Linked DNA regions of Homo sapiens: all the other regions are linked to region 2. The links come from fine-mapping of genetic effects on gene expression. A gene starts in region 2. Each other region holds a variant in brackets. All regions are shown on one strand. Distances are between the middles of the regions.

What was found. PIP is the estimated chance that this variant, and not a neighbour inherited with it, causes the effect. A credible set is the group of variants that fine-mapping cannot tell apart.
Region 1: its variant is the best candidate, but not a certain one, in a credible set for the expression of ARHGAP6 in skeletal muscle (FUSION, PIP 0.53).
Region 3: its variant is the best candidate, but not a certain one, in a credible set for the expression of ARHGAP6 in whole blood (TOPMed, PIP 0.71).

Annotation. Positions count from the first base shown.
Region 1 is chrX:11,410,666-11,421,200 of GRCh38, reverse strand. All of the region lies in intron 1 of ARHGAP6 (Rho GTPase activating protein 6), which reads left to right. LOC124905246 (a long non-coding RNA gene) reads right to left here and starts at 3,986. Exons shown (of 2, transcript XR_007068392.1): 1 at 1-3,986. The variant C/T (reference allele first, on the strand shown) is at 5,513.
Region 2 is chrX:11,661,088-11,671,622 of GRCh38, reverse strand. ARHGAP6 (Rho GTPase activating protein 6) reads left to right here and starts at 5,703. Exons shown (of 13, transcript NM_013427.3): 1 at 5,703-7,382. The coding sequence starts at 6,795.
Region 3 is chrX:11,421,467-11,432,001 of GRCh38, reverse strand. All of the region lies in intron 1 of ARHGAP6 (Rho GTPase activating protein 6), which reads left to right. LOC124905246 (a long non-coding RNA gene) reads right to left here. Exons shown (of 2, transcript XR_007068392.1): 1 at 5,367-10,535. Among named protein-coding and RNA genes, the nearest start is that of MIR548AX, 110 kb to the right of the region's middle. The variant C/T (reference allele first, on the strand shown) is at 4,899.

The sequences.
Region 1 (10,535 bases), 250 kb after region 2:
CGTAGTTTCTTGGGTTTTCAGAGATAGAGGTGAGAAAATGTGAGTGAGCTTCCCTGGCTGTGAGTCACAGTTATGAACAGTGTGTTTCATACTGTGTGGGGATTACTCTGGAGAGGGTGTTGGTGGTCCTTCCAGAAGCCTCAGCATCTTGGGCTTTTTGTTTCTTCACTCCTCAATGCCAAAGCCCTTCCTAATCTTGGGTTAAAAAAATGTTTACTGTCTTCTCTCTCATGTCAGACATTAGCTAACTTCTTCCTTTATGACCGTCTAACAGCCTTGCCTAATTTGCCACCTCTCTTCTGATTTAGCCAGAATACCCGTTTAACAAATGTGTTAATCGTGGGCCTAAAATTAGAAGTTATAATCTCCAAATGAGGATGTGTGGAGTGCTCAGCAGCCTTGGTGTGTGGATGTGGGATCTGCATCTGTATGAAAGTGAGAAACTAGAGTGCCTGCTTCTGTCCCTACTCCTTGAGGATAATGACACAGACCGGCCTGCTCTGGGGAAAAGGGAAGAGTTGCTGAAAGAAAAGCCAAAGGAAAGAGGGAGGGAAACAGTGGCTCCCAGCGTTTCTCTCTCAATCACATCAGGGTTCAAAATCTCCTGAGCAGCCCAGGGTGGCAGGCGGGTTTGTGGCCTACCTGTTCTCCCATTGAATTGCAGAGCCCGTTCTTAACTCCTGGCCATGTCACTGCATGTCCATTAGCATGGTCTGTTTTAGATTGTGAGTTACGAGATGATGGGGAGGGTGGGGATAGATTTAACGGTCTTGGGTGCTTGCCACATTTTGGACTGAGACCACTGTTTACAAACACAATTAATTAATTTAATATCTTTTAATGTACTTTCTGTTCTCAGGTTTTCTCATTCTAACCTTATTTTCAAAAGACCAATTTTTCTGATTTATTTTATTCTTAAATATACCCTGAATACTTAAAAACGTAAAGGTAGATCCAGTGATGCAACAAGGACTCCCACCAGTCATTATGTGGTACTGCTTTCACTATCTTTGTGGTGACTACTTGGATGTGAATATGGGATACTTTTCAATACAAGAAACATATACAAAATATAAGCCAAATTTTTTCATTCAAATACAGTTACTGTTACTGAAGACTCTTCCACTTCCAATTTCCTTGAAAGATGCCATGACTCTTTCAAATGAAAACCTGTCAGGCTTGTTCTCCTCTTCTCTTCGGATACTTGTCATTTTCTTAGAACTTTTCTAACATAAAAAAAAATCTTATAGTAAAATTTGAGTGTTTGGGATGTCAGCTAAATTAGATTTCTGAAATAACAATTTTAGAAGAATTTGGAGTTGTGGCTTTAGAGAAAAGTTGCCATGGCAACAGCAACAGAAGTAGTTTAGATGAATAAACTTTTAACATATTTTTGAATGACCCCTTTCTGCAGTTGACTGAAATATCTGGTAAAGAAATGTATAAGCCAGTCCAAGTGCAATACAGAGGCTAAAAGCATCTCAGCACTTTGTGGAGCACGTGGGCTCCATATTTGCCAAGCATCTCTGTGCCAGGTGGGTGCCTCTCCACATGGGCACAAATCCCTGGACATTGCTCTAGGTTCCTAGCTTGGTGATGCCATGTTAATTAGACCCACAGATGAATAATAGATTAGCAAGGGTATGGAACATTGAGTTTGCTAGAATGATTTGAAAATGGTAACATAACACATAGTATTATTTCTGTGGGTATCTATGCACATGACTTTCAACAGTTCCATTCATGTTAAGATGCCATTTCGATGGTCTGAGCAAAATGCAAAACACGGTCTTAACTTTTATCTCAAAAGTTAAGGCATCCTCCCACATTAGCTACTGATTCACAGTCAAGGGCTTTGTGTCGATCAGGATCCAAACAGGAAACAGATAAATCACTCAAAAGGCTTAATTTGAGGAATGAACTACGCCAATGTGTTGACAGGTTTAAAGGAACCAACGGTGAGTGGTGAAGCACCCAGCAATTAGCAACACTGAGAAGCTGTTACCAGGGAGGGACCAGCGTTACCAGAGCCCACTGACTTGCAGCCTTGGCTGGAAGGGACCCTGGCAATGTGTCCAGAGAAGACTCCAGCAAGGGCAAAATACAGAGAAGCAGGGATAGACTGGAACAGTAAATACTCTGACTTCTTGGTCTCCCTGTTCTCCATCTCCTTCTGGGCCCAAGCCCAGCCAATCCAGTGAGACCAGCACAGAGAAGGGCAGAACATTTTATTTCCTATTTTTGTTGAGGGCTGGCGGGAGGGGGGGTCGGTGTTGACAAACATAAAATATCATTACAAGCATTTTCAGTCTTGTTTGGGGTTTGCTTACATTTATGAAAGACCTTAAATTCCTAAGTATATAGAAGTCTCCCAAATTGCTTCAAATGTCTCTTTCTTCCACACTGTAGATTATTTTGACTACCACATTTAAAGTACTCAGGTGCTATGCCAGCTCCATCCATACGTGGTGTGCTTGCTTTTAAGGATTTTTATATCACAAACCTATTAAAGCATTTAGTAGAGAGTGATATATTCTACGTATATTTTGTCATTAATCTAATATTGGAAAGTTCATTACTTTAAAGTGCCCTGGTCTAAATTTATTAGTATTTATTAATATAATTCAAAATATGTAAATGTATTAATATAGACTACAATTAGATTTTTTTTCCCTCTAAGCCCATTAGGATAGTCTAATGTAATTTCCTTGCCAAACAAAGAAAAAGGAAGATTTGGTTTGGCTTTTTTTCTGGTTGATGGGTAAAGGGTTTTAACTCTTAAAATTGCACATCAACACAAATGGTCTAACCTGTGCTTGACTGAAAGGCAATTTTCATTTATCTCTGCTGGTCAAGGAATGGTTGCAGCTAAGTATTGCAGTTAAACCGCCCTGTACCCCAGTAAATTTTAGCAGAGAGAAAACTCTCATTTCAACCTGGACTGCAGAAAGTACCTCTTATTCTTAAGTTAGTTCCTCCTTGAGTCTTCTGTGCACCCACTTTCATAAATATTCATCCTGCTTCTTTGGAGACCATATTCACAACAGAACCAGAAAATCCAAAAGGACGCAGACCAGAACCAGGGACTATATTGTGTGTGACTCAATGCTTGGCCATTTATAGCATGTGCCTGATGCTTAGTATGTACTTGAGTGTCAATGAAATTAATCAGTGATTTAAAGCTCTCAGAAATATTTAGTCTGACTTAGAGTAATAATAATAGCCAATATTTATTGAATGCTCTCTATGAGTCCTGCTTATTCTACATATATTATCTCACTTAATCCTTAAAATAACCCTGTGAGATAGGTCCTATTATCCTCATTTAAAAGATGAGGAAACCAAAGCTCTGACCTTATGTCTGTTTCAGGGCCACACAGCTAGTACGTAGTGGGGCTGGGACTCAAATCCTTGTCTCTTAATTTGATTGCCAAGTCTGCATGCTTGAATCACTGTGCAGTGGGTGATTGTTGACATGCCATTGGCTTAAGGTGATACCTTTGAGGTAATACTTTTTAAAGCCTTTCATTTTGTAATAATTGAAGACTTATAAGAACTTGCAAAAATAGTACTGAGAGGTCCCATGTACCCCTTATCTAGCTTCTCTCAATGGTAGCATCTTATTTACACAATATCAAAACCATGAAGCTGACATTGGGACAATCCTATTAACTAGACTACAGATTCTCATTTTACCAGGTTTTTACATGCATTCTTTTATGTATGTATATATGCGTGCAGTTCTGTGCAATTTTATTACCTGTACAGACTGGCATATCCACTACCGCATTCAAAATACACAGCTGGTCCATCACCGCAAAAGCACTCCCCCCATGCTACCCCTTTGTATTCACATCCACCCTACTCCTGCCCTCATCCTGAATCTGGGCTACCACTGAACTGTCTCCATAAGATGACACATTTTAAATTCTTCCTCCTGTTCTTGCTGCACGGTGGAAACATTCCTGTCTCCATTGATTATTTACACCCAAAGCATCCATAAACATAACAGAAGAAAGTATGGTGAATTGATAGGGAGATCAGAGAGGATTTTGGTGTGTCCTTGTTGTCAGCAATGCATATATATGTATGTGTATATATATATATATATATATATATATATATATATATATATATATATGTACACACCCATATAAAGAACATCCTGTTTGTTATTTTTAGTTGAGGGTTTGAGGGTTGTGGTAATTTTATAATTCCAACACCTGTGTTTTCACTAGCAAACTGCTTTTGATTGAAACACGGCAGAGTTTATCTCCTGCGTAAATGCGGCACACTCCCTCTTTGCATGGCTGTTCTAACGGCACATCCATTTCTGGACCGACAACCGCGTGACTGAACTTGCAGCAGCCTGGAAAAGGTACATGAGAGCTGGCACTCTGCCCTTGTCAGGGTTTTCCAAAAGTATTTACGAACAAGGATAAACACGAGTCCTGCATGGATTTGAGGTAGCCATGACCGAGCTGGGCTCTGGGCAGCACAACAGTTACGTAAACCTTGGCATTCATGGCACACATGCATTTTTATTCATCCATTTCAAAGGGAGTGGCCGTTCGTAGACCTCTCTTGGGGAAAGGTTTGAACCTTATCATGATGAACTGGTTCAAAAAATCCTTAATAGCTGTTTTTATTCAGGATTGCTGAAGAGTGAAACCTTATCATCGGGACACAGTTAGAAAGACTTCCTGCATTTATTTGGTGCTCACTATTTTAAAAAAGGTGTCCAAACTGCTGATGCTGTCTGATTCTGCAAACATAGGCAAACTTACTAGATACTTCACATATTTCAGTTTTACCATATGATTATGACTTGATATTTATTAGAAAGGAAGAACATTTTTTAAATGTAGTCATACTGAGCCCAACTCTTGCTTTTAATGCAATTTAATTGCATTAAAATTAGACAGGTAATGTCACCATTACCACGCAGATACTTTGTATCACCCATTGCAAACATCTGTAAAGGATCAAAGGCTCATGTAGTGAGTCTAAGAGGAAACTTGGTTTGAGAATGAGGCCTTCCATGATATTTCTGTGCTGCCGCAGGTGGGGGAGGGCACATTTTTATTTAAGGCGTCATTAGAAAGGAATGAAATATAGAACTCCTAGCATGCATACATATATGCACATAGACACACAAAATCGTACTTTACCTTATAGCTGTGTTGTCTAAAATGTAGAAGTGTGTTTGTATCAGTTAGCTATCACCACACTAATGCTGTGTGACAAGCTACTCTGACATTCAGTGGCATAAAAAAACCATCACGGATCCTAGTGGATCTGTGGGTCGGTTAGGGTTGGCTTAGCTAGACAGAGCTCAGCTGTTTGACCAGAGGCCAAAGTGTCAAGGCTCTTCTGTCAATTCTGTCCCATGTGTATCTATCCTGGGGCCCAGGCTGGCAGCATCTACCCAAAGAAGTTCAGCAATGACAAAGGCACAAGATGGCAAGTGGGATCAACTGAAGACTCTTGAGACGTAGGCAGGAATTTGACA[C/T]ACTATTGTCTCCACCCACCTGCTACTGGCCACAGCAAGTCACATGTAAAAGCCTAACTTCAGTGTGTGGGGAAATGCACTCCTTCCATGATGGGGCTGTGGTAAGGATGTGAAGCAACGAGGGATGAAGAGATGGGGGAATTGATTCACTTTACCTCAGTGTTTAATCAGTTTATCCTGAGAATGCCAATACTTTTAAGAAGGTACAAATCTATCCTGATTTTCTTTTTCTGTTTCGTCAGTGAGTTCTTTCTGTCATGGATGTCAATATCTATGTCATCATGACCCAATTAAATGACAAAAGCAGGGTTTTGAGGTTCTCTCACTGATATCAGTTCCCATAAATCCACAGTGATTGGAGAAAGACTGAGTAGACATTAAGGGAATATAGAAATAGACTGAATGATATTAACATTTAAACAGAATTGCGACACTCGTCCCTGTTTCCTTGTGTGTAGCAGCTCTGGTTCCTCAAACTATCAAAAAGAAACCATTCAGAATCACCTCCCTGGATACTTTTTAAAATTTATTTTTAATTGACAATTAAAAATTAAATATATTTATGATGTACAATATGTTTTGAAATATGTATGCATTGTGGAATGGCTAAATTGAGATAATCAACATATGCATTACTTCACATACTTATTTTTTGTGGTGAGAACACTTAAAATCTATTGTCTTAGCAGTTTTGAAGTATATAATACATTGTTATTAACTATAGTCACCATGTTGAACAAGGAATATGAACTTACTCCTCCTGCCTAACTAAAATTTTGTATCCTTGACCAACATCTCCCTGGAGATTTTTTATCTGCTTCTTTTTACTAGTATCACTTTTAAAAGATTTCTGAATTTAGCTACTGTTTCAAAACCTAGAAGAAATTAAGGATGAGGTGATTTATGAATGAAAGAAAAATATATTAATCCTTTAGGCCAAACACACCAGAGGCAACGTTTGGCAATTAAATTATTAATTTGATCAATTTTGACATGTAAATGGATAAGCTACATTAAAAGCAATGCACTTAAAGTACACACACAGAATCTTGTCTCATTGAAGTTTGAACACCTTCACCATATCTTCCTCTATTATATCAACTTGATTGAACAGTTGCCAAGGCCTGTTTTTTTTTCCAGTTTGCTCTGTACGTGATCATATCTAGTAGACTGTCTGCCATATTACGGTAGCTCAGTTCTTAAATCAGGGGTCAACAAACTATGACCCACAGGCCAAATCCAGACAACTGCCTGCTTTTGTGTCTCCTATGAGCTAAGAATCAGTTTTACATTTTTAGATGGTTGAAAAAAATACCAAAAGAAGAATATCTTATGCCATGTGAACATTTTATGAAATACAGATTTTAGTGTTCATAAATAAAGTTTTATTAGAACACAGCCATGTGCATTTATTGACATATTGTCTTTGGCTGCTTTCACACTATGATAGCAGAGTTCAGTGGTTGGTTGCAATGAACTGCATGGCTTGCAAAGCCTAAAATGTTTACTCTTTGGCCATTTACAGAAAAAGTTTGCCTATCTCTAGTCTAATGCTATGTCTCAAATTACCACAGACACTGTAGATAGGTCTACGTTACATCAGTATGAAGGCAAAAGAAAGGGACACATATTGTTGGTATGGAGGGGAGTGGTGGGTATATTTCAGATAAGGGCAAAATGTCAGTGAACATTCATTGATTCACCAGTATATGTGCAGAACTGGGTATGTGTATAGCGCTAAGGGAAACATTTTTTTAAAAGGTTAGTCTCCAATTTTTACTCTAAGGCTTCCTCTTGAATAAGAAGATGCATCTGCAAGTATAGTGTCTGAAAACTATTTGCCTTGTCCAATCTCTACATCACTGGAAAATGCTTTAAAAATTTTAAGTTAAAAATAGTATATGTTTCATGGTTTATTTTGCAATTATTCTAGGCAGAATAATTTTCATAAACATTGCCATTCTTACCAGTGCGAAAGGGAGACTTAAACTCAGAAAAGTGTCATTTACTCATGGGTTTAAAATGCTAGTTCTTCTTGTGGATGTATCTGAGATTTTTATGTTACTGTATCCAGAACTCCCTCAGAGGCAAGAACATAAAGGGCCTCCAGGAGCTGACTCTAAAAACACCAGTCTCCTGTTCTTTAAACTCCGTGTGGCTTGCTGAGCGCTCAGCCACAAGAGCTGGGGGTGAGCCATCTCTGGGTCCTGCCAATGCAGCCAGTGTTGTGCCAAAGGAAGTAGCCCTGTCTTACACTTTGTGATGTTTCTTTTGGCTGACTCTTCCACATTCTTGTGACCCTTTGAATGAAGACGTCTTAACAGCTTTAGCTCTACACCATGGCCTCCCGCTATCATTTCCTGCAGGTCTTGTCTTAGAGCTCAGCAGCTTCCTGAGTAAATGTCACCTTGGTGTCTTCTAAGAGGGTCTCACTGAGGTTCAAAAAACCATGGCTTCCACCAGATTGAAAGCATAATGTCCACGAGTCTTTGTCTCACTGGACTGTGCAGGAGGATGAACCTGGAATTCTTTTTGGTTTTGAAGCAACGAGTAGGTCGGGGCACAGAACAGAGAACCAGGAAAATGTCTCTGAGGGTGGAAATCAAATGACCCCAGAGGAGGAAATTCCAGTTGAAAATAGAAACCGGGTCAGCACCCTTGTGAGAGCCACAGCATCCTAGACTTGGAAAGTGGCAACCTGTGGCCTGTGAAGGCTGCTATCAGAAGTCCATGGACTGGCCTGAAAAGAGTGTTGTGTTTTATGGCAATCCAAATTGAAACAGGATTTATCTAGCTTCACAGATGTGGTCTGCTGGAGAGTTATGTGGAAATGACTCAATGTCATATATTTGTCACATTGACCAAGGGTTATTTCTTTAGTAGGAAAAGACAATTCGGGAACAATATTTTCTTGAGAACTATGATATATGCATACATGATGGTGGTAGCTTCCAAATTACCATGGTACGAATTCTCTCCATTGATGGTTAAGGGGAAAAGGGTTATTTTGTTGCAGCTGTACAATATCCCTTCATTAATTCAATGAAAAGATCTCAATTAATGATTATTCCTTAAAATGACAGATCTATAATTAACTTGGAAATGCCCACAATATAATCATGTTGCTATGAAAAGTGATGGTTTTTAAACTAGTCTAACATAATTCCGGATTATCTTTAAAGAGAATTTAATGTCTAGAAAAGTTTCTGTAGCTCTAAAAAGCTGCAGAATAGGATGTCATTTTGGGAAGTTTCCCTTGCTTAATTCAGCTTATGATCCAAATTTGAAGGAGACCAGTAGTCCAGGAGTTTTGTCTGCAAATAAAATGAACAATATGTGTTCTAAAGTGTTTTGGATTTTTGTTTTTGGTGGGAGGCTGGTTAGTCATGGAGCAGGGTAGAATTAGTAGCTTTTGGCTTTAATCAGGAAAATATCACATGGTGTTAAAGTGCTGTCTATTAATTGGTTATTATAAACTTTAAAATGTATATTATGGTGGAGAAACTTCTCATTTGGGGGACTGTTTTTCATAGCATTTGTGGCAACTTTTATTTATTACTTAAAAATTTTAAACATCACAAACACTGAAATTCTGGGGTAGAGATAGGATTTTCTTAAAGGAGAGATATATTTTTGATATATCTTTTTCTATCTGTGTGTGAAAGTGTAATGCCTTCCAGAAATCCATAGGAACAGAAAATAGATTAGTGGTTTCCTGGGGCTGTGGTTGGGAAAGGAGAGTGACTGTCAGTGAGCCCCAGGGATGTTATTGAAGTGACAAAAATGTTCTCAAATTGGATTGTGGTGATGGTTATCCAACGCAGTAAGTTTACAGGTGAAGTTTATAGAATGTAAATTACATCTCAATGAAGTTGTTTTAGAGTATGAGTTAATAAGAGAATCAAAAAGTACTTATTTACAAATGAAGGATTAAAATCAATATTATACAATCAAACTTGAAATACGTTAGTAATGGTATATATATATTTTTTCCTTTCTAGGCCACCTCTTAGAAAGTTCAAAATCTAATAAATGAGGGGAAACACCTTTTTATTTTTTGCTAGTTGTTCAGGATTCAGTGATCTGACCAAGCACCCATTTGTAGTTAAGACATAAACATCCCACTGAACTAGACACCAGACTTCTAAGAAACTCGACTTTCTAAAATCAAAAGCAAAAACATATCTGAGCAGCCACCAGGACTGTCTATATAATTTGATAAAAATGTTGCAAAACTGAATTAATAGTTATGGTTACACAATTTGGTACATTTACTAAAATATCATTGAATTGTACACATAAAATGCATAAATTTTATGCTGTATCAATTATACCAAAATAAAGTTATCTTCCTATAAATATATGTTCATTTGTTTATATATTTATGTTTATTATATATGCATATATAAATCTAACGTAAACATATAAATAAATGTTTATATATTTCATATATATTTGTATATTTTATATATATATATATATATATATATATATATATATATATAAATAATGTCTGCCAGTGACACAGGCCCAATATCTATATTCCACATAATGAAGTCATAGCAACAGGGCCATAATCTTATCTTATTCATCTTATTTTGGGATATTTTGGCCTTAACCATGTGACACTGAAATTTGCTTGGGACTGTTGAAAGCATTCCCCTTGTTTAAAGAGGTTCTACTAAAAACAACTTTTCACCCATTTTTTTGTTTGTTTGTTTCTCTCTTTTTATTTTTTCTAGCACAGTGGTAACACCCTATTCCCACTTTAACTTCTTTTCCTTCCTTCTTTTTTGAAAATTTTCTAACTTGTATTTATAATTCTCTTGCTCATCAAGGTCATCCAGACACTATGGTTCTGTTCATGTGGAATTTTAGTCTCATAGCAATCAGTAAGACTGTCTTGCGAGAGCCGGAAATGTGTTCATTAACTTGAGAGGCCTTCCTGCTAAGTGGTCAAACATGGAAACACAAAGTTATGTAGGGACATTTTGCTCTGTAAACTCAAGGTATAGCATCATTT
Region 2 (10,535 bases):
TCTCTCCTAGCCTCTAGTGGTTACTGGCAATCTTTGGCGGTTTTTTGGCTTGTAGCTGTATCACTCTAATTTCTGCTTCTGTCTTCACATGGTCTTCTTCTGTGCACACGCATGTGTCTGTATTCCATTTGCCTTCTCCTTTCTCTCATAAAGACACTAGTTATTGGATTTAGGACCCATCTAATTCAGTCTGACTTAATCTTAATTTGATTACTTGTGCAAAAACCCGGTTTTCAAATAAGGTCCCATTCACATGTACCAGGGATTAGGACTTGAATATGCCTTTTAGATGAACACACTTCAACCCACTACAAGAACTGAAAAAGCTCTGTTCTCTATTTTGTCCTCCCTCCCTCATGCTCTTCTTCCCTCCTTCCCTTTTTATATTGGCCAAAGGCACTACTCAACCATGAACATAGCAAAACTCAAATTGTCAATGTTCATTGAACGTTAATAAAAGCATACACTGGAGGTGATAGGAATGTTCTGTATATTGATCGTGGTAGTGGTTTCATGGGTATACACAACTGCCAAAATTCATTTATATAGCTTATTGTATGTAGATTCTCAGTAAAGTTGATGTTAATATATATGTATGTGTCTGTATGTACCCTAGGCATAGTACCAGTTGTTTTATTTTCTTCTTTCCCTTCCATACCCCATCCTACCTTGTCACCAGAGAAACATGTTAGGCAAAATAGGTCCTCCTGTTTCCATTCAATATAGAAAAGTGAAGATTCGGGGGAAAAATTAACATTTCATAGGCAATGAAACCTCATGTTATTTGGTTGCTTTTTAAATTGGGAAATATTGATGAATGCTTAGATTATGAACAATTTAGGGTAATTAATAAAGTATCTATTAAAATTGTTTACATTATTACAGAATTCTTCATCCTCAAAAGTAGTTCTGAGACATATGCTACAGAAGATTTTAAAAATTAGTTTAAGTAGCTAGTACAGCTGAATTATATACCAGGTTCAGATAAATTTAACTTATTTTGAGATTCTAAGTACACTTTCACCACAAAGATAGAACAAAGAATGCCACTAGCACACAGTGTGTGTTCAAAAATGTTTATCAACCAAAACTGAATTTGGCTTTCAGCCAATTTATATTTCTAAAAGTCTCCTGAGATCAAGATTCAAAGCCTAAAGCAAAAGGGATGATGGTCATACATTTAGGATTTGATATTGGAAGATTCGTTCACATGCCACAGGTAGAGTAACCACTGTTTGGTTCAGGAGTTGCCCCTGTGATCCTGCTGAGCACATCTACACTGCAACTTGGTTTAAGATTCTTATACAGCCTTGTTTTTCACTTGCCCTGCTAACTTGGGCAAGTGAAAATAGGATGGTTAACATTTAGAAATAGTGTACCCCGACCAGGCGTGGTGGCTCATGCCTGTAATCCCAGCACTTTGGGAGGCCGAGGCAGGAGGATCACTTGAGGCCAGGACTTTGAGACCAGGCTGGCCAACATGGTGAAAACCCATCTCTACTAAAAATACAAAAATTAGCCGGGCATGGTGGCAGGTGCCTGTGATCCCAGCTACTGAGGAGGCTGAGGAAGGAGAATCGCTTGAACCCGGGAGGTGGAGATTGCAGTGAGCCAAGATGGCGCCACTGCCCTCCAGCCTGGGCCACAGAGTGAAACTGTATTTAAAAAAAAAAAAAAAAGAAGAAAAAAATAGTGTACTCATACCTGCTCAAGAAATAAACATGTAAGCGAAAAGGCAGAAAATGTGCCTATGCCAAACTCCTGCTTTTTTAAGTCTAGAAGATAAATATTAAACACTAGAAAACATAGAACATGTTGCTAATATTTGCACAGAAAATGAGAAAATGGACAATGTTGCAAGTGGATGTTCGTGTGTTCAATGCAGATGCTGACACAGATACAGTCGTTTTCTTTTACTGAATTTAATTTTTTAAGGTCACAATTGGTGAGAAATGGCAAAATTAGGCACACAGAGTGGGGAAAAACTGGGAAAGATGAATAAGAATAGTCATTTGGGTTTCCGAATATAACGTCAGAAAAAAAAATTTCACAGGTCTGGATATCAACTAGAGGAATATTAAAACCTCAAGTGTGTACCTGGAGGGTTCATGGTTCCAATTCTGGGCTATGTGAAATTGATCCAAAATATTGAGCCAAAAACCTTGCCTGTTGGTATATAAATGTAATAGAAGACAAAAATTTCCTGTACTCAAAGACTCTAGGTTTACCTCCACTGACGTTTGTCGATTGTAATTTAAGTGCTTTGGCAGCTGGCATAGGAATCTAAAGAAACATTTTTAGTTCAGGCATGGGGAAGTTGGGCTATTTAATGCAATTTGCATTCTTAAGCCTTGTAAAATTTCTCCACATATCTCTCATGTATTCCATGCATGTCACACAGATTTAAATGATGCTTCTTTTTCATGTTTCAGGAGCTTGGAGACAGAACCCGGACTTTTATGGGCAAGTGAGATGCTGTGAACTGTTTACCCACTAAGAACATAGAAATGATATCGGGGGATCATGATCAGTTTGAGAGACATGGGCAGGATGAAATGAAAATCAACAATGCTAAAAGTTGGGAGCCAATCAGATAGAAGTCTGAAATATTATATGACACTCAATCAGAAAGTTCAGTGTGATTTGAGACTGTTTAAGCAATGGGATTATATAACAAACAAGAGCAAAATAGGATGCCCTAACCTGGAATATTGGACCTCAGGACTGAAAAACAAAAGCAACTGGAGGGAGTCCAGAAAAGATCATCTACAGTGATGGTTTTAAAGCAAAATATGAACTTTATAGTGTAGCCAAACCACAGAGTCAGACCCAAAGGGCATGATAAAAATCTACAAATAGCTTTGGGGTCTAAACACCAAGGATAAAGAGGAATTTTGGCTGGAGATATGAAAAGCTTCAAGGGATAAAGTTAAGGAAAAGGAAATTTAGGTTAAGCATCAGAATATATCCTTTGATAGTAAGATGTGTGTGTTTGTAGAACAGTCTCTCAAGGGAATAGAAAGAATACTGATGAGTTTTCTAGGATCTCTGATAAGAGGATAGCTTGATGTCAGTCCAAGGATTCTAGAACTTCCATTGGAATATTCTTGTGCCATGACCAGATGGAATAGATAGCATAAGATGTTTTTTAAATCCTAGATGTCTACAATAATTATCATTGGGAATGAATAGTGAACAGAATGTTCTGCTCTTTAATGAAAGGTATCCCAAGTCTTTGATTAACTTTGTCTCTGAGGAAAAAATTAACAAATATAGGCACTATTTTCAATATCAAATGCCCTAATAGAGAAGCAAAGCAAAGTCTTAGAAACCTGCTTTTGAAAGCATATACATTAAAACTATTTATTTCTTGACTACCAATTATAATGCTTCTGAAGCTAGCTGATGAATTGTAAGAAGGATTCTGGGAAGCAATGTAACAAAACCAGCCATTTTTTGAAATTGGTAACCAAAACCCATAGATCTTCCTTAACTGAATTTGGCATAACCTGACAGTTGATCAGAAAGGCCAATGTGAGTTGAGTCTATATAAACAAAGAGAATATATAACAAACAAGAGTTAAATAGAATGCCTTAAATAGGAATGAATGAATCCACCATAAGCCACTATGACTGCAAGGTAAACCTAATAGCAGTCAGGTTGAAAATCAAAATAGTTTTAAAAAAATCCAAAAAAATTCTTACAAAGTCTTTCTAGAAGAACATCAACATCCCCTGCCCCAGGTATTAAAAGCACACATACTTACACTGAGTTTTTAAAAGGAGCCCCAGTCTAATTTGATTAATATTTAAAACAATTTATTCACTGTTCCCAACAATGACACAAGTTTCCAGTTTCCTGGAGGGTCAGGAACACTTGGAAACTAGATGATGAATTAACTGGCATGTGTGTGTTCCAAGCCCTAGGAGTGCTAATAGAAGAATCCCTCTGCTGGTTGGCTCTCCAACACCCATGAGCAAGAATGTATGCCCTTGTGCCTGGGGGCATTCATACTAGCCTATACAGTCATGGCAGGGGTTCATTTGCTACCCCATGGTTATCATATGGGGTTAGAGAAATATATAAATCATCAAATACAATCATCAAGTTGCTCACCCCCCTTGAGTTATAAGTGATTCTGTGAAGTGACTCTGTTAACCATCTACCCCGAATGCCAAACTCCACTGAGGCATAACCATGCAATGAGGCATAACCATGCATTCGTATCCCAGTGGTAGAGACATTAAGTGTTTCCATTACCAGTGATAAATTACAGTTTTGTTACTAAAGAAAGGGCAGACAAGACCCACACACTTTTACTTCTAATGTGACTTGTATGAGGAGGGAAGAAAGCCAATGCCAACAAGCCCCCAAATGTAACTTGGCCTGGGTGTAGTTAGGCAGGGGAGCAAGAGCTCTTTTTAAACACTGTGCCTGTCAGCAGCACACCTGATTGACAGCCGCTGAAAATACTTAAGAAGCTCAGGGTGAGAAGAGATGGACAGCGATGGGGGATGGGAAACTAGAATCGAACTCTGTCTTCAGACAGCAGATAGCTCATTAAAGCTACCGGAAAAAAAATCTCTAAGGGTGCAGTCTGTTCGGCTGCGTTTACAAAAAACGAGTACAGCCAAGACCTGGGAGCCCGACGCCCTTTGTGGAGACAACGAATTCTCCTAATTAGATTTCATGACGTACCTCCTCCAAAATAGCTGAACACCTAGGAACACCAAACACGCTTTTCAAAGAGTCTAAGTAAATTAACTTTTCCCCTGAATATGTCATAGGGAATAAAGGAAGTCTTCCAGAATCAAACTTGGACAATTCTGGTAGATATGCAAGAGGAATGTTCGTGTCCAACATCTGTATTTATAATTTCATTGTATTTTTTCTCCAAAATAAAAGAAATGGTAGAGTCACCTTTACATTTATATAAAATTATCTTCATCCCTAAGTGATAAAAGAGGACACAAACACAAAGTAGACATTTCCAACATTCTGTCTGCTCCCTGCTGAGATGGTTGTAAGTTGCATTGCAAAGCTTAACTGTTACATCAAAAAGCCCTCCAAGAGGGCGAGGCTTTGCGCTTTATAGATTCCAGGGGTCCGACAGCGGGAGAAGCTGCTTTCAGACTCATCTCCTTGCCGGGAAGATTGATTTCCCCAGCGTTCTCCAGCTTCCCAGGACTGTGGCCACCGCGCTGAGACCCGAGGCGTCCCAGAGCGGGACGCGGAGACAGATCGCTTTGTGAGCGCCAATCTCTGCAGCCTCTGGGCTGAAGCTGCGCCCGGCGCCTGCCCCCTACCCGGCCTCACTCACCCCTCCTCCTAGAGCACGTTTCCGCACGTGCTCAGGACCCCTTCCACGGCAAAGGCTCCTCCCCCTCCACTTTCTTAGTAGGTCTCCATCTCCAGCTCATTCATCGGCAGCCACTGCTTTTAGACAGTTTCCTATCTATCCTTCCTTTTTAAAAACAAAAACAGCCGGGACAGGGCGGGGTGGGGGGGCGCGGGGAGAAAAGGCAGGAGATTTAACTCCAACTTCAGAGCAATCGTCCCCGGCTGCCCATCTGACACCAGTGGGTGGGGTGCAATCTGACACTTCCCTTCCTTTCCAGAAACGTGAGTGGAGCTGGCGCGACCCTTGATCTGGGGGTGGGGAGACGGGGGAGAAGGTCCGCACTTCCGTCCTCACGACTTTCTCCCCAGGAGACCCGGTATCAGTGGCGAGCTGCCTTCTCTCCTCGCCGCTTGCAGGTTTGGCGCCTGGAAAACTCTTCACGTTCTGCTTTCTCCTGCTCCTGGCTCCGCCCCAGCTCCAGCCCCGGCATTCCTCCAGCTCTACACGTCCTGGCCGCCCCCTTCCCGCTGCCTCTAGAGCGAGCGTACGGGGTCATCTCCGCGTCTGCCCTGGGCCCAAGGCTGGGCTGCGAATAGCGTGTTCCTCTCCGGCGGAACACACACACCCGGCCTTGGGGCTGTCTCCTGAGCTCCCTCCTCCACGGAGAGCGCTGAGCGCCGCCGGGAATTCCATCCCACCGTGGGCACGCAGTCTTTGGAGGTCCCGGGCGCAGCACGCTCGGTGTCCCCACACTGCAGCAAGACAGAGACCCCGCGGGAACCTTGAGCTTGGAACAACCCTTGAGCCTCTGCAGTCGGAAGAGTGGGCGCAGCAGCCCAGCGGAGGCCAGGCGCGCAACCTCGGGCGCCGGGGCAAGGAGAGAGTGCAGGGAGGCGCAGCTCAGGCGCCCGGCTCAGGAGCGGGAGGAAGTTCTCGCGGCGCCGGGAGCGCGGTGGACGCGCCCTGGGCGCACGCCCAGGCAGCCTTCTCCCTGGCCCTCGGGACTGTCCTCGGGCCGCAAGGAGGAGCTTGCTGGAGTCTTAGAGGCCATCCAGAGCCAGCGAGCAGGAGCGCTGCGTCTCCCGCCTCAGCTAGGAAGGGGGAGTGGCGCTGGCAGGCTGGAGCTGGGAACCCAGCGAGCGCCTGACCTTCCTCCTCCTCTTCCTGACCCTCTTCGCGTCTTGGGCTCCGGAGGAAGGTTCTAGCGGCTGCAGGAGGTCCCCAGACCCATTTTCCTAGAAGGCTGGTGATGGATCTGCTGCTCCTGCCGCCGCCGGGGCACTTGGAGCGCACCGGCGGCGCGTGAGCTGGGCTTTGCTCTCCACTGCCCTGGGCAAACCCCGGGCCAGCCCCGCCTGGCACCTTTGCCTGAGTCCCTTTCGGTTCCCGACCCAAAGCCACCAGCGTCCAGGGAGGGAGGAGGAGGTGGTCCTCAGGTGCAGCCCCGCCGAGATGTCCGCGCAGAGCCTGCTCCACAGCGTCTTCTCCTGTTCCTCGCCCGCTTCAAGTAGCGCGGCCTCGGCCAAGGGCTTCTCCAAGAGGAAGCTGCGCCAGACCCGCAGCCTGGACCCGGCCCTGATCGGCGGCTGCGGGAGCGACGAGGCGGGCGCGGAGGGCAGTGCGCGGGGAGCCACGGCGGGCCGCCTCTACTCCCCATCACTCCCAGCCGAGAGTCTCGGCCCTCGCTTGGCGTCCTCTTCCCGGGGTCCGCCCCCCAGGGCCACCAGGCTACCGCCTCCTGGACCTCTTTGCTCGTCCTTCTCCACACCCAGCACCCCGCAGGAGAAGTCACCATCCGGCAGCTTTCACTTTGACTATGAGGTTCCCCTGGGTCGCGGCGGCCTCAAGAAGAGCATGGCCTGGGACCTGCCTTCTGTCCTGGCCGGGCCAGCCAGTAGCCGAAGCGCTTCCAGCATCCTCTGTTCATCCGGGGGAGGCCCCAATGGCATCTTCGCTTCTCCTAGGAGGTGGCTCCAGCAGAGGAAGTTCCAGTCCCCACCCGACAGTCGCGGGCACCCCTACGTCGTGTGGAAATCCGAGGTAGGGACCAGCGCTGCGCGTCCCACGGCCCAAGGAGGAGGCCCCCAGGCAGTTTCAGGAGACCGCCTTTAATTCCATTACATTTACAGAGCAAGGCACCCACTAAGGGGTTTCCGTGGTGTGGGTTTTCCTCTTCTACTTGCTAAATGGTGCCTGGAAATGGGATGTCCCTAGTGGCCACCCGCTTGTGCGTCTTGTAGGACTTGTTGGCTCTACTTTGGAGCAGTCGTGGGAGCTGGAGAAAGAGATGGTGTTCTGGTTTTCTGTTAGTGCTGCAGGCAATTTCAAAGGGTCACCTTATCCCTTCACCCAATGTTGATATTTTTTCCAACTCAAATATCTATTGCTAAGCTGTTTGTAACGATTGGATGAAATATATTTTGAAATATGTCTGCCATCTTGTTCTGTAGAGAATTCAGAAACATTATTTTGGAGGGTGTCATTGACTGTATGAGTGAGTGTGTGTGTGTGTTTGGGTGGCAGGGGGGACAAGAATTCTCTAGTTTTCACCTTTTCTTTCCCTGAAGGGGCAATTTCAGAAATCTATGGTACTGAGTATTAGTTTAACCTAGGAGAAGAAGAAAATCTCTGTGTAGGGGTGTGAAAGATCATGGAAATATGCTGATGCCTAAATTCCATTTAGAACAATTAGTAGTTTAGTGAAGAATCAACAATACATAGGGGACTCAGAGGGAGCTATCAGATACCCTTAAAATATTTGCTGTCCAGTTAAGAAAAATAGTGAATTGACCTATTGGGAAACTGTCACTGATGGGCGCTTTGAAAATAACACACTTTCAGAGAATAGTAATTGTTTTAAAAATGAACAGCCCCTATCCCCTTCGGTCCACAAACTCTATAGGTTTGCCTTGGATCTGTTTCCATAAGGGAAGGGAGATTCCATCAGTTGTAATTTAATATTTTAAAGTACAGTTAGCATTACAGAAATGAAATGAAATACCATGTAATTGCTGGAGATTTAGGCTAAATACACAACCAAGGAAAACCGTTTGAAAATAGCATCTGAGATCATACTCAGCTGTGTTAATGTGAGATAACTGTTAGACTTTGGCTTTAGTAAACCGCCTTAGAAAAATAAGCATCATTTATCAGAATTATTAGCATCACATATTATTAATGTTAGTTACTGTGTCAAAGTAACTGAGGCTGTTAGGTGTTGGGGGTGCAGATTACAAAAAACTAACAAATTTTGCTAGGTCTTTTGCCCATTTTCTTGAGAAAGATAGGCAGTAGAAAGGAAAGTCGAGGCAGAGGGCAAGATGTTACCTCCAAACCAGGGAACTCAAGATTAGAAAGAGCATCAAAAATTGAAATGTTGAATTTCTCTTGGTCTTTAGGAGGGGCTGGATTCTCATTGTATTTCAGAAGCACACATTATCAGATTAATCTGTACAAGTTGAGAGAAAGAGAAATACAAAAGCAAGCCAGCATTTTGGATTAGCTAGCTAACATTCGTGCTTAAAACTAATTGCATCATTAAGAACATTTCTGCTTTTCTTAGCAACCATATACATACTTGGAATATAGTATACAGATGCTGCTCATTACTGTTATGACCAAAAGGCATGTGGCTGTAGATGATTTCACTTGTTGCAAATTATCTTCTTATCCATTAGCATCTCATAATTAATGGACAAGGATCTGAACTGCAGTGATACTGGGTGGCTTCTATTCCATACAGTGGGCAGTCTGCACAAAACTCATCTACCATGATTTTTACCTTTTCATGGTGGTTAAAACTAAGGATGTAGCCATCTAGCAAAAAGCCAGAATTTTCTCATAGAATATGTGTGTATGTGTGTGTGTGTGTGTTGGAAATTCCTTTATGCTTGAGGCAGGCATGGAGTGATTGGATAGAACTCTAGCATGTAGCTCCAACCCTGGTTTTGTTTAATAAAGGCCAAGATATCCTAACATAACCCTTGGATCTCTAATTTAATGGCCTGGATTACCTTTCAAAGGTTTAACGCCCTGGAACCCTCTGAAAAACCAAGAAAATGTATCCTATTGGGCACTGCCTGTCCTTTTCACTTGCAGGCAAGCTGAGTCTTTGGTCCTTAAAGGAGAGTCTTTACTAATGACATCAAAATGTCAGCCAATGAGCATCTTGCAAGGCTGCTTAGAGGCCCTGGAGGGAATATCTGGTTCATATAGATTTGGTTCTTGAACTTTTCTGGTTGCTCTGGCTCAGGGTTTCTCAGCCTTGGCACTATTGACATTTGAAGCTGAATGATTCTTTGCTACAGAGCTGTCCTGGGTATTGCGGGGTATTTAGCAGCACCCCTGGCCTCTTCCCACTAGATGCGAGTAGCACTCCTCCAGACCAGTGTGACAACAAACAATGTCTCTAGACACTGCTGAATATCCTCTGGGGATCAAAATCGCCCTAACTGAGAACTGCTGCGTTAGTGAGGTTGCCCATAGTACCCCATGCTGGCCATCAAGAGAGTGCCCACAGAAGTGTTTACAGCTGGCCTAAACTTTGTTGGCGCCTTCGTTTGATTCCAAAACCACGAGGATCCCTCTGGAGTCATGTACCCCTTACAGTCTGTTCAAATTTTCTATTTCTCTTCCATTGAATCCATATGAAATCCTAAGAATTCACCTTCAGGTTTAGCCATTGATGGATCTCATCCATTTCCCACTTTGTTCTTTCAGAATCTTGTCTGCTTTTAACGTAAATTGTCCATACAACAGCCCCTGCTCCCAAGACTCTCACAAATGCCTGCAGCTTTGTTACTTGTGCTCGTTCAAAGCTTACAAATGACCATTTTATGGCCTAAACCTGGGAAGTGTTAGGCAAAGTCAGCTACGATCTTGTTAGCATTTCCTCACTACGTGTTTCAGGATTGCTTTAACAAAATCTGATTCCTGGACATGCTGGGTAGATCATCTATTGAGTAGAAACATGGAGGAGACAAAGGGTAAATGGTACGTGGTAACACAGTTGGAACGTGTTTCTCAACTTGTGTTCTTAGCAGCCAAGCTCTGCCCCTGACTCTGATCACAGGCAAAGGAATAAAGTCTCATTTCAATCCTGAGCTTCTCCTAATTCTTGTGGATCAGAGCTGGGATTATGTCCATAGCTAACCTGGAGTTTGCCAACTTTTGCAACCCATAATTAAAATGATT
Region 3 (10,535 bases), 240 kb after region 2:
TAGAGGCTGGGGATGATGCAAAACATTCTGCAATGTCCAGCCTCTACCATAAAGAATGATTGGTTCCCAAATGTCAAGAGTGCTGGGGTTGAGAAACCCTGCTGTAAAAGGGAAGTGAAGAAGTGAAGTCATGACAGTGTCTACCACTGGGATGGAGGAGGGAAATACAGCCAAGGGACATGGGGGTCTAGGGTACTAGCAATATTTTAATTTTTGACCTCAGTGAAGGTTAGACAGGTGAATGTTTTGTAACAATTCATTAAGCTGCACATTATATGCTATTGATTTTTCCATTTCAAAATGTTAAAAATACTCCAGGGGCTAGATTAACAGGACAATAGGATGGCATAGTGTGGGCACTGGGTTTGGGGGAGGGGATTCCCCATCTTAGAGGGTCTCATAGTAACTCTGTTAACAATGGTGGGGCTGGGCCTTCAAGAAGGGCCTGTCCTGCCATCTGAAGTGATTTTTAGTACTCAGATGGGCCCTCAGCTCTTCCTACACTCTGAAGTTGAATTTGCTTCCACAGATTTGGGTAAAGTTTTTCTGAAAAAAGTAATCACCCTTGCATTGGCATTAACTGTGGAAAATTTTAACTCAGCCTATAGGCAGGCAGAATAAATGCAAACAAGTATTTTAATTTAAATGCTCTGGCAGAAAGGGCAGCATTCAGTTCTGGAAATGCTGTAATGTTTAGGGACAGGAAGACATGGAAATTCCACAGTTAGCAGGGCACGTTTTCTCTTAAAGGTGATGCTAGTAGAGTAACTCATACAGATTATTTTTAAGTCCTCTCTGGGGTGAATGATAAACATCAGATAAATTTATTATTTTTTAAAAAAGAAAAACAAACAAAAAAGAACATTAGCCTAGCAGGCTCTTAACCAACAAATTGGATGAACTTCAGCCTCCTCTGAAGTGAGGTTTTATGTGCTTCTTGCTGCCTTTTTATCTCTCTCCATTACCCCAAAGGATCAAATGTGCATTTTAAAACCACATGCCATGTCAATATACAGTTTAGTTGACCTAGAACAATACCTGTGCATAGTATGCACTTAAAAATATTTATAAAGTGTGGAATGATAGACAATGGACACTCAGAAGGGCAGTGGGGTGGATGATGGTGAATTACTTAATGGGCACAATGTACATTCTTCTGGTGATGGATACCCTAAAAGCCCTGACTTCATCACCACACAATCTATCCATGTAATGAAATTACACTGTTACCCCATACATTTATACAAATTAAAATTTAAAATTTAAAATAATATTTGTTGAATAATGACCAAGTGAACAAATAACATGGGAAGGATACTTGGAAGTAGAGATATGCAAATAAGAAATTTTGATTAGAGTGGTGTTTTAAATATACCCTGAAATATATTTAAATGAAATAATGAATAATGTGTGAAATTCAAATTGTTTAAGATTGAACAGACTTCTTAGAGTTCTGCATGATCTTCTAGATCCTTTCTGGAGCTTTGAGCCTTACACAATTGGACTAAGAATTGAAGGAGGTGGATGATTCATTCCAAGGTGATTTAAGAGTCTTGCAGCATGAACTGATCATTTCTTTAGGTGCTTTGCCCAATCTCACAAACTCTTCAAACACAGAGAAAAAACAATCCTATTGCACTTGAACATTTTACTCCAACTTAGCTATGACACTTTAGCAATAAATAATGCTAGAAGGCAGAAGTCATTCCTAAAATGTAAGTACACAGTGTGGGGCTGATGGAGTATTTTTGGCTTACAAGAATGTCATTTAGTGACTTACTACATTTTTGAAAGAAAGAATACAAACCAAATCCAGGATGACCCAGTTTTAAGAGGTGACTTACTCAGGGGTAATGATCAAAAGGCTATGGTTAAGGTTTTAAGACCCAGGGATCCACCTTGTGTTGTTTAAATATATTCATAATTAAATAGTATTTGTAGGGAAAGGGATTTTTAGCTTCAGGGGCTTAAAGGCAAGCGTGATGGAAGAAAAAGTCCTAAGGCTGGAGTGTTCACCTTTATGAATAGACCACAGTGAAGTGAAAGTCCCTAAACTGGGGCTTGTCTAGGCCATTGAATTACATCTGTACACACGTGCCCCCATCAGGCTGCCCTGGCTGCAATTCTCTGAAAGATGCCAGATGGTGAAGCTCAAGCTGGTTCTCTGTCTTATTCTGAGGATCTTTGATGACTTTGCTCTAAAGGTTGCTTTTAGCAGCAGAACAGAGTGAGAGTAAAGAGGGAACTTTAGTGTGTCATTTTTCGAGCTCTGCCTGGACATGTCACAGAGCAAGGAAGGCCTCCAAGGTCAATGGGCATGCTCATTTCTCCTACAAAGCAGAAGAAAGGAGACTTGGGTAGATCAGGCTGTGGGAGAATGAAAGACTTGGGCAAATAGTTCAATTGACTTTCTCATAAGACAGGCAACACTGTTTGGAAGTTCCTGGGTTTGGCAAGGGATTGATTTTAAATTTATTTTTATTTTTATTTTTTATTTTTGCAGTATAAAATACATGTAGTGAAGGGTGTAAATTACACTAGTCTGAACTGTACTGCACAGTGAATGTTTACATATGGGTGTACTCTAGTAGCTGCCATACAGATCAAGATATAGATCATTTCCAGCACCCTAGAAGGTTCCCTTGTACCACCTTCCTAGTCAATACCACCTTCCCACTTTGGTAACCACTGTTATGACACCTATTACCATGGATTCCATTTGCCTATTGCACTTAAACATTTGAATTTCAGTTGCAGAATAAATAAGTGAAATCTTACAGTATGTACACTTGTGTCTGATTTCTTTCTCCCAACATAATGTTTGTGAGATTAATCCATTTGTTCTGTGCATCAGTAGCATTTTCCTTTTTATTGCTGAATAGTATTCCATCATGTGCACAGACTACAGTTGGTTTGTCATGCATCAGTTGGTGTACATTTGGATCGCTTTTATTTGGGGCAATTATGCCTCAACACAGTATGAGCATTCTGGTATATGATGAGATTATTGTACTCTGTATATCTAGGGGTGGAATTTGCTGGATTGGAAGGTAGGCCTATGATTGACTTTAGCAGATATAACCATCCAGTTTTCCAGGTGGATAAACTGTCATGGGACTATCTAATGGTAGATTCCTCAGGCCACTTGCACCCCTGGCTTCACATTCCCACTGCTAATTATAATTATGCTGTGATTGTTTTAAAATATTACATGCCAGTGGATGGTTCATTCAACTAAATTGTAAGGGCTGAAATTCCGGGGCCACATCCAACTTTCCTCCCCTCTCCTCCCCTCTCCTCTTACACAGAGCAAGTGGAGAGTCATTCAGCCGGTTCAGTACAGTGGGACCCTGACAAACTGGCACAAGCTACCCCCAAGCACATCTTCCACTTTGTAGCCACCCCTCTGGGGCTTGCATTGATTGATTCATGAGTCTGGAGTCTCTACTCTGGCCCCAGGCCTGGCCTTCCTCTGGGCTCAACTTGTGGGAGGCTGGACGTAAATTACAGAAGGACAAGGCTGTGGAGGGAACTCGCTGATCTTCTCCAAGGTGTTTTAAAGTGCAGGTTTCCATGAGGGGATTTCAGAGCAGAGGCCAGTTTTAAGGGTTATTGTGAACCTACAGAATGTGCCCTGCAAGCCCCCCTGGAACTCGGGTCACCCTAAGTGACCAGCATCCTGGGCAGCCTTGTCCCCGCAGCAGTTCTCCTGGGTAGCATGACTTGGTTCCTCTCAGTCCTGCCCTCCCCAAGGGTCCCCACAATTTGAGACTCTCACAGAAGAAGGCTTTCTAGAAAGGGAAACTCTGCCCTCCCAGGAGAAGGCTCTGAATCTCCTTCCACTGTCAGGCCCACACCTCCTTCAAAGTTAGTGAAAGTCTCTCTTTCTTGGAAACCCAAGTTCGCCTTCTCGCTGGCATTAAAGGCTTTGGCAGTCCCCGCCTCAGCAGCCGGGGTCCCACGGGTCCGGGGAGGGTGGGGTGGCAGGAGGCAGGCGTGCCGGCCAGCCTGACACCTGTCGTGGGCGCGTTCGGCCTCCGCAGCCCCCAACAGCTGTCAGCGGCGGCGGCCGCCGGAGGGACCCGCCAGGAGCGGAAGGAATTAAACGCCCGCCCATCGCATCAGACTCGGCCGCTCCCTCCTCCTCCTCCTCCTCCTCCTCCTCCTCCTCCTCCTCCTCCTCCTCTTCCCCCTCCCCCTTCGCGCCGCTGCCTTCTCCAGGTCCCCACCGGCTCCGCAGCGGCAGCGGGACGCTGTGCCAGGGGCGCTTTGCACAGCACTCGGCACGCACGGAGCAGGGCTCGCGCCCAGGGGCTGCCCCAGGATGGCAGTGAAGTGCGGGGAACTCAGAGAGACACCGTGACCCCAGGCTGAGCCCAAGGCGCGCCACTCCTCCCGGAGGCGACATGGGGCACCCGGTGTACCGCGGCGAGAAGCCCCAGCTGCACTACGCGGTGAGTGTCCTGACGCGTGCAGAGGACACAGGGGGCGCCACTGGGCCGCTCCGGGTGGGGACTGCGAGGGGCGATGGTAGTCGGGGCTCCCCACAGGTCCACGGCTGAGGGGGTGGCGGGTGGCCGGGTACGTCACCCCGAAGTGCCACCTGCTCACTAACTCAGTGGCGCTTCCCGAAATCTTTTAGAAGGTACAGGGGAGCCCCAACCCTGAATTCAGTGTTTCTTTGCCCCAACGCTGTGGTCACTGCATCTGGGACGGGGCTGGACTCCGCCACCACCTCGCTGACAAAGGCTGACAAATGGGGTTCCTGGGGTTAGGCCTAGGTCGCTCATTCAGCCTTCAGTCAGATATGTTGAAAGGACGAGAATAAGACTGGACAGGAGGCAGGGCCGCTTCATGATCTCAGTGTGCGGCGAGTGGATTTGCTGAAGAAATGCTGC[C/T]GGGAGCGTTGGGGTGCAGCCGTTTCACTCCTTAGAAAGGGAGTGCATTTCCCTCCTACTTTGTGGCGGGACAGAATGTTGCACATTATCATTAATGTTGCACGCTAATACAAGAGAATACCAGGGGCTCTTCTGTCGTACCTTCCCCCTCCCTTATGGTGGCTTCTGTTCTCCCTGTTGATACAAAGATTTACTGGGGACCTACTGTGTGCCAGGGACTGCGCTAGGTGCTGCAGGTACTGCAGGAAACACAACAGAGAGAAAGCTCATGGGATTTGCCTTCTTTGAAGAAGGAGTCAAGATTTTAAGGTTAACGACCGACCAAATCCAGATACTAGATGAGTATATTCTTTGAGAGAGAGAAAAGAAAGGAAAGAAGGAAAAAAGGAAAGTTGTTTCTGAGGAATGACTACTACTTCTGAAGATTTCAAATGCCCCCTCCAGGAAGGGGGCAGGGAGAAGGTTTACCTTATTCCAGTCTTCAGACATTGATTTTCCACGTGTGAGATGTGTCGTTTTGAGATGAGACACTGCAGTTGTTCTGTCATCTGCTAATTTACTGAGTTTTCCTTGAATTGATTTGCACTGTTGAGACTGGACGTTCTGACTGCCAACTTTAAAAATTGGAGAGAAGCAGGCAGAGAGTTGACAAGAATCATTAATATTTATAATCAGGCAAAGACAGTTAACTGTCTGGAATTCGTGTCTTCCAAAATCCAGTCCCCAACATAAAAAAAAAAAAAATTGTTTTTTTGAAGAAAGGAGTAGAGGTGGACAGGGGTGGTGGACTCAGGCATCCCGGAGCTGCTCCAGTTGGTTCCTGGTGTCACCTCGGGGCTCCTGGATTAATTGCAGGGCCATTGGGCAAATTGCACACCTCGTACACTTCGCTTTCCTCCACTGGAAAAATGAAGACCTGAATTAGGAAATTGTTAAGATACCTTCCCAGGCAAACGTTCCAGGAACCTGTAACAGCTCTTTCTCTGGTTTTTCTATAGTTACTTGTCTTGAAACACCAAATGAGATACTTGTAAGTTACTAATGCTCGTTCATCTGTCTTGGAGACACCGGTGGCTCAGTGATTTGCCTTTTAAAGTAGTTTAAAGGGTAACCACTTTTCAACAGAGGTTGCTTTACACTGAAGGAAGTAGAGTCTGTGCTCATTGTGCCCATTCAACATCTCCACCCCACCACCTTTTTGAACTGTGTGCTGGTACCCTTTGATTCATGATCTGAGGTCTTTGCCATTTGCAAGAGTGCGGGTGGGGGAGGAAAGGTGAGAACGGGCTCCTTAATTTTAAAAAAATCTATTCATTCAATGAATGGTTATTGCCTCAATTATGTAAATATATTACAAAAATATTTTAAAATTGTCATTTAATTAGGCTGTCTGATTCTTCTAAAATCATAAACTGAAGAGTCAAGCCGATGCTAATGTCCCCTCTTGGGGCTCTGAAGACTGCTGATGAAATAGCCCTTTATTCTAGTACAGATTATCATGTATGTATATTCTGGTTTAAGACTATAAAAAGGAAGATTCCAGAGGGAATTTGTTGGGATTCCAGGTTGGAATAAGTCACCCGGGCTCTCTGAAGTTTCCTATGCATACTTTAGGATGAGAAAGCAGCAGCTCTGAATCAGTCACGTGTCCAGAGAATGTTCTTTATTAAGTGCGACCCATTGTTTTTCATATTAGTATAACCCTTGGTGGTATAATATCTATTCTAACGCTGCACTTTTGTTTACTTCCCTCATTTGGGTTTTGATAATTCCAGAGCTTGTTTTGCCGTTTAGCACAAATATTCCACTTACTTTGCTCAACAGGGTTTTGTCCCACTGTGCATTTTCCTGTGATCTTGGGTTTTTTTTGGGTCTGTCTTCCTTGACATGAATGACCCTCCATGTGTCCTTAATACCTCCTGCCTCCTCTGAAATATAATTCGGGGATAAGTATGTAATGCTCTTCCTTCAGTGCTTTTTCGTTTGTCCAAGGTGAGACTGCATATAAGAGGTCAGTGGCTCACATTTGATTCATTCAATAAACATTTGTTGAATGCCTGTTGTGTTCCAGGTATTTGGTCAATTTTCCAAAGAGACAGTTAGATAGTGAAAATGTTAGGAGTTGCTATGGACATCTCACTCATCTTTTTAAATGGTCATAATGGTCACAGAGAGCAAAATGCAATTAACTAGACAAGAACATCCTCCATTTACATAAACAGACATTTTCAAAGTATAATACAACTGTCTTCTTGCTTTATCATCACACACAGAAAATAATGTGTGTTAGCAGCTAATGTTCTCCTCAAAAAATTTCCTCCTACAGTTTTCCCACGTTCAGATTATGGTGACTCCGTCCTTCCAGCTGGGTGTTGTCCTTGATGCCTTTTGGTGACTGAATCAGATTTACATTTTGAAATGATCCCAGTATGGAGTGAGGATGAGGAGGAGCTAGAGTGCATCCTGGTATTTGGGCCTGGGAGAGATTCGAGAAGATGACTGATGCTAGGGTGGCAGCTGGGTAGGAGGTTGAGAGCAGTTGGCATATTGGAGAGATGCTTAGAACATAGAACCTGTCAGACTTAGTTTGGATGGGATAAAGAGGTGATAGAGTATGAAGGATGAGGATGACATGAATGAATCAATGATTTTCTGGCAGCATTTCTAGAGAAGCTCTTGAAGTTTATATAATAAGCAAATAGTCATAATGATATTTCCCTCCTTGTTACTGTCTTATACAGATTGCAAAATATTTGAACACAGTCTAGGTCAATTTCAGTCTGAAATCCAATTGCTGCCTTATGCAGGTTTTCTGTTTCCTGATTGAAGAAATCTAAGCTCAGAACAGTAGAATTCAAGGCAGCACATGTGTCGCTGCTGACAGAACTGAGAGCTTTATCCAGGTGCCCTGATCCTGCAGTGCTCTTCTGAGTCATTTAGACAATGAGGATAGTCGAACCTAATCATCCCTCTGCGATCCACTTTGCCACAGTAATAAACCAACAACCAAATGTTGGACCTTCAGTGACTTAATGTGACTATCTGTATTGTCAAATTGCATGGCCAAATAGCTTTTAAATTTGACTAGTGTAGACAAAAACTAAAAATTTAAGTATCCATTAAGTTCAATGCAATATCTTTATGTCTTTCTGAAAGACACTAAAAAAAATCTGGATTAAAAGCTTGGCCTTGTGACTTACTGGGGACCTTAGGAGGCTCAAGCTCTTCTCTCCTGGTGCCCCAACCTGTCTTTACCCTCAAGTGGGGCAGAGAAAAGCAAATCAGTGTCCATTATACAGTCACCATCAGGAATCCCTGGACTGACATCATTCATTTCTCTCTCGCTGGCAGGTTGAAAACTTGCTGGGAGTAGTACTATGTGTGTCTTGTCCCTGCTGTCACCTGGACACCTAGCAGAGTGCTGGAAGCACAGTAGGTGCTCAGTAGAAATGTGTTGAATGACTTCATGAATCTAGTAGTTGAGACCTAGTTTTTGAGGTCCTAAGCTGCTCATTCTCCTTCCTTGTACTGGTCTAGTCTGAGCTCCTCTGCTGCTGATGTCACTTCCTGTTTGGTGTGGTCACTGCACCATCTGTGCTTTTGACCACAGCCTTGTAATCAGATGCTGACTCTGCCCTTGCTCCAGTTAACCCCTTCCTAAGGAACTCACCAGAAGTGCCAAGCTGCTTACCCTGACAGAGAACCTGTTTTCACATAGAATGGAAACTATGAAAGTTTCCACGTTTGTTCTCTATGAACATTCAATTTTCAAAGACTTTGAAGTCATTAAGTTTGCTTAATAATTGAGTGGTATTGAATACAGGATACTCTCTGGTAATTCTGAAGATGCCCAGAACTGGGCGCCGTTGCAGGCCTATGCTGATATGAATCAGTTATCATCCATCGGTGCTAACAGTGTAGACATCTTAGGAAACTCAGCAGAACTTATACTGACCTGTGGCATGGCCCAGAACTTACTTTTATAAAACCATTTTTATATTACTCTGGTTGTCATTTGTCTCCTCATAAAAGCAAAATTTTTTCAACTTACAAATATGTGAGAGATTATTGAATCCTCTTAATTGACACCTCTACTAATTGTAGATACCTTTTCTACTCCCACCCCCAACCTGGCATGCTTACTTTTCTGCTGCATGCAGAAATTTTCCTGGATGAGGCCTCTTTGGTGTGGAAGCCCCATCATCTTAGGAAGCTACATCTCCCCTCCTTCAAACCACTCATTAAGTACCACTACTAATTGATAAAAAATCAGATTCCTGTTGGATGTTGCATAGCAGACATCTCTGCCAATCATTTGAAAACAATTACCACCCTTTGCCTAGTCCTTTCTGGTGATGAACTTTTATTATTTACTTTTCCTGTTCCCACATTGTGATAACCCTGGACCACACACACATGACTCTCAACTTGGTTGTGAAATTATTGTCCAGTCATACAAAGTCTTCATTGGGTTCTTGATTCCTCACTTCCCTGTCACCTGTTTCATTCTCAGACTTTCCCATCTCAGTGAGTGGTTGGCTGTCCCTATGGCCAGTGCAATCTTTTTAAAAGGTAATGAAATAGTGACATTTCAGTGCTTAAGCTCTTTGGTTGGTTTCCATTCCACTTAGAATAATAGCTTCATCCATGACCTTGACCTTCCAAGTGCTCCTTACATGGTCTTCTCTGCCTCATACCACACCCCACTCCACAAGCTTATCATTGCCTGGCCACATCTGTGCCCTTTCTGTTCCTCAAATGCGACCAGTTCTTTTCTGCCCCAAGCCTTTGTACTTGCTGTCCCTTCTGCCTGGAATGTCCTCTGTGTGATAGGCTTTTTTTTTTTACATCCTTCAAATTGCAGGAAAAATGTCGCCTTTCCTGACTGCTTTCTCTGAAGTGTTTCTGAGCCCACTCAGTTACCCTGGATCATATCACACTAGCCACTTCCCTCATTGTTCACATCACCACTTGGTATTATATTATATATTCATTGTTTGTCTGTCTCCTCTGACTAGTGTGTAAGTTTATTCAGGGCAAGGACCCAATGATCCTTTCCCACTGTCTTTCCACTGCCTTAGAGCAGGTCCTGGCACAGGGTAGGCATACAATAAATATTTATGAGAACATGAATCTGGCTGCCTGTGTATTTTTCCCTAGGTTACGCTAGGACTTTCCAAACTTAACCCTTTATTAGTTGATGATTGAGGTCAGAGGGAGAGACGAGACTAAAAATTAGCTTTCCAGTTTCACTGAATTCTTACTAAACGAGAATCTCTAAGGACCAGACTTGGAATCAATCCTTTGAAAAAGCTTTGGGGGTGGTTCCAATATCAGCTGGGTTTGGCAAACACTGATTAATTTACACGGTGAACCACTTACTACTCAAGCAGCCCCTACAAAATGTAGGATTCAGCAGCAAAGTAGATTCAGAAAGTGCAATACAATACTTCACCTCAGCTGACTCTGAGGTAATCTAGTACAAGTTTTCAGAGCAGTCCTTTGTTTTACCACCCAGTGTTCATTTCAGCCAAACTCTCTAATGATACAAAAGGTATAGGAATACTTCCTCTATATAATGTCATCTGGCAATATGTCCCTCGGTATCCATATTCTAGGTAAAATCGACCAGTGGTT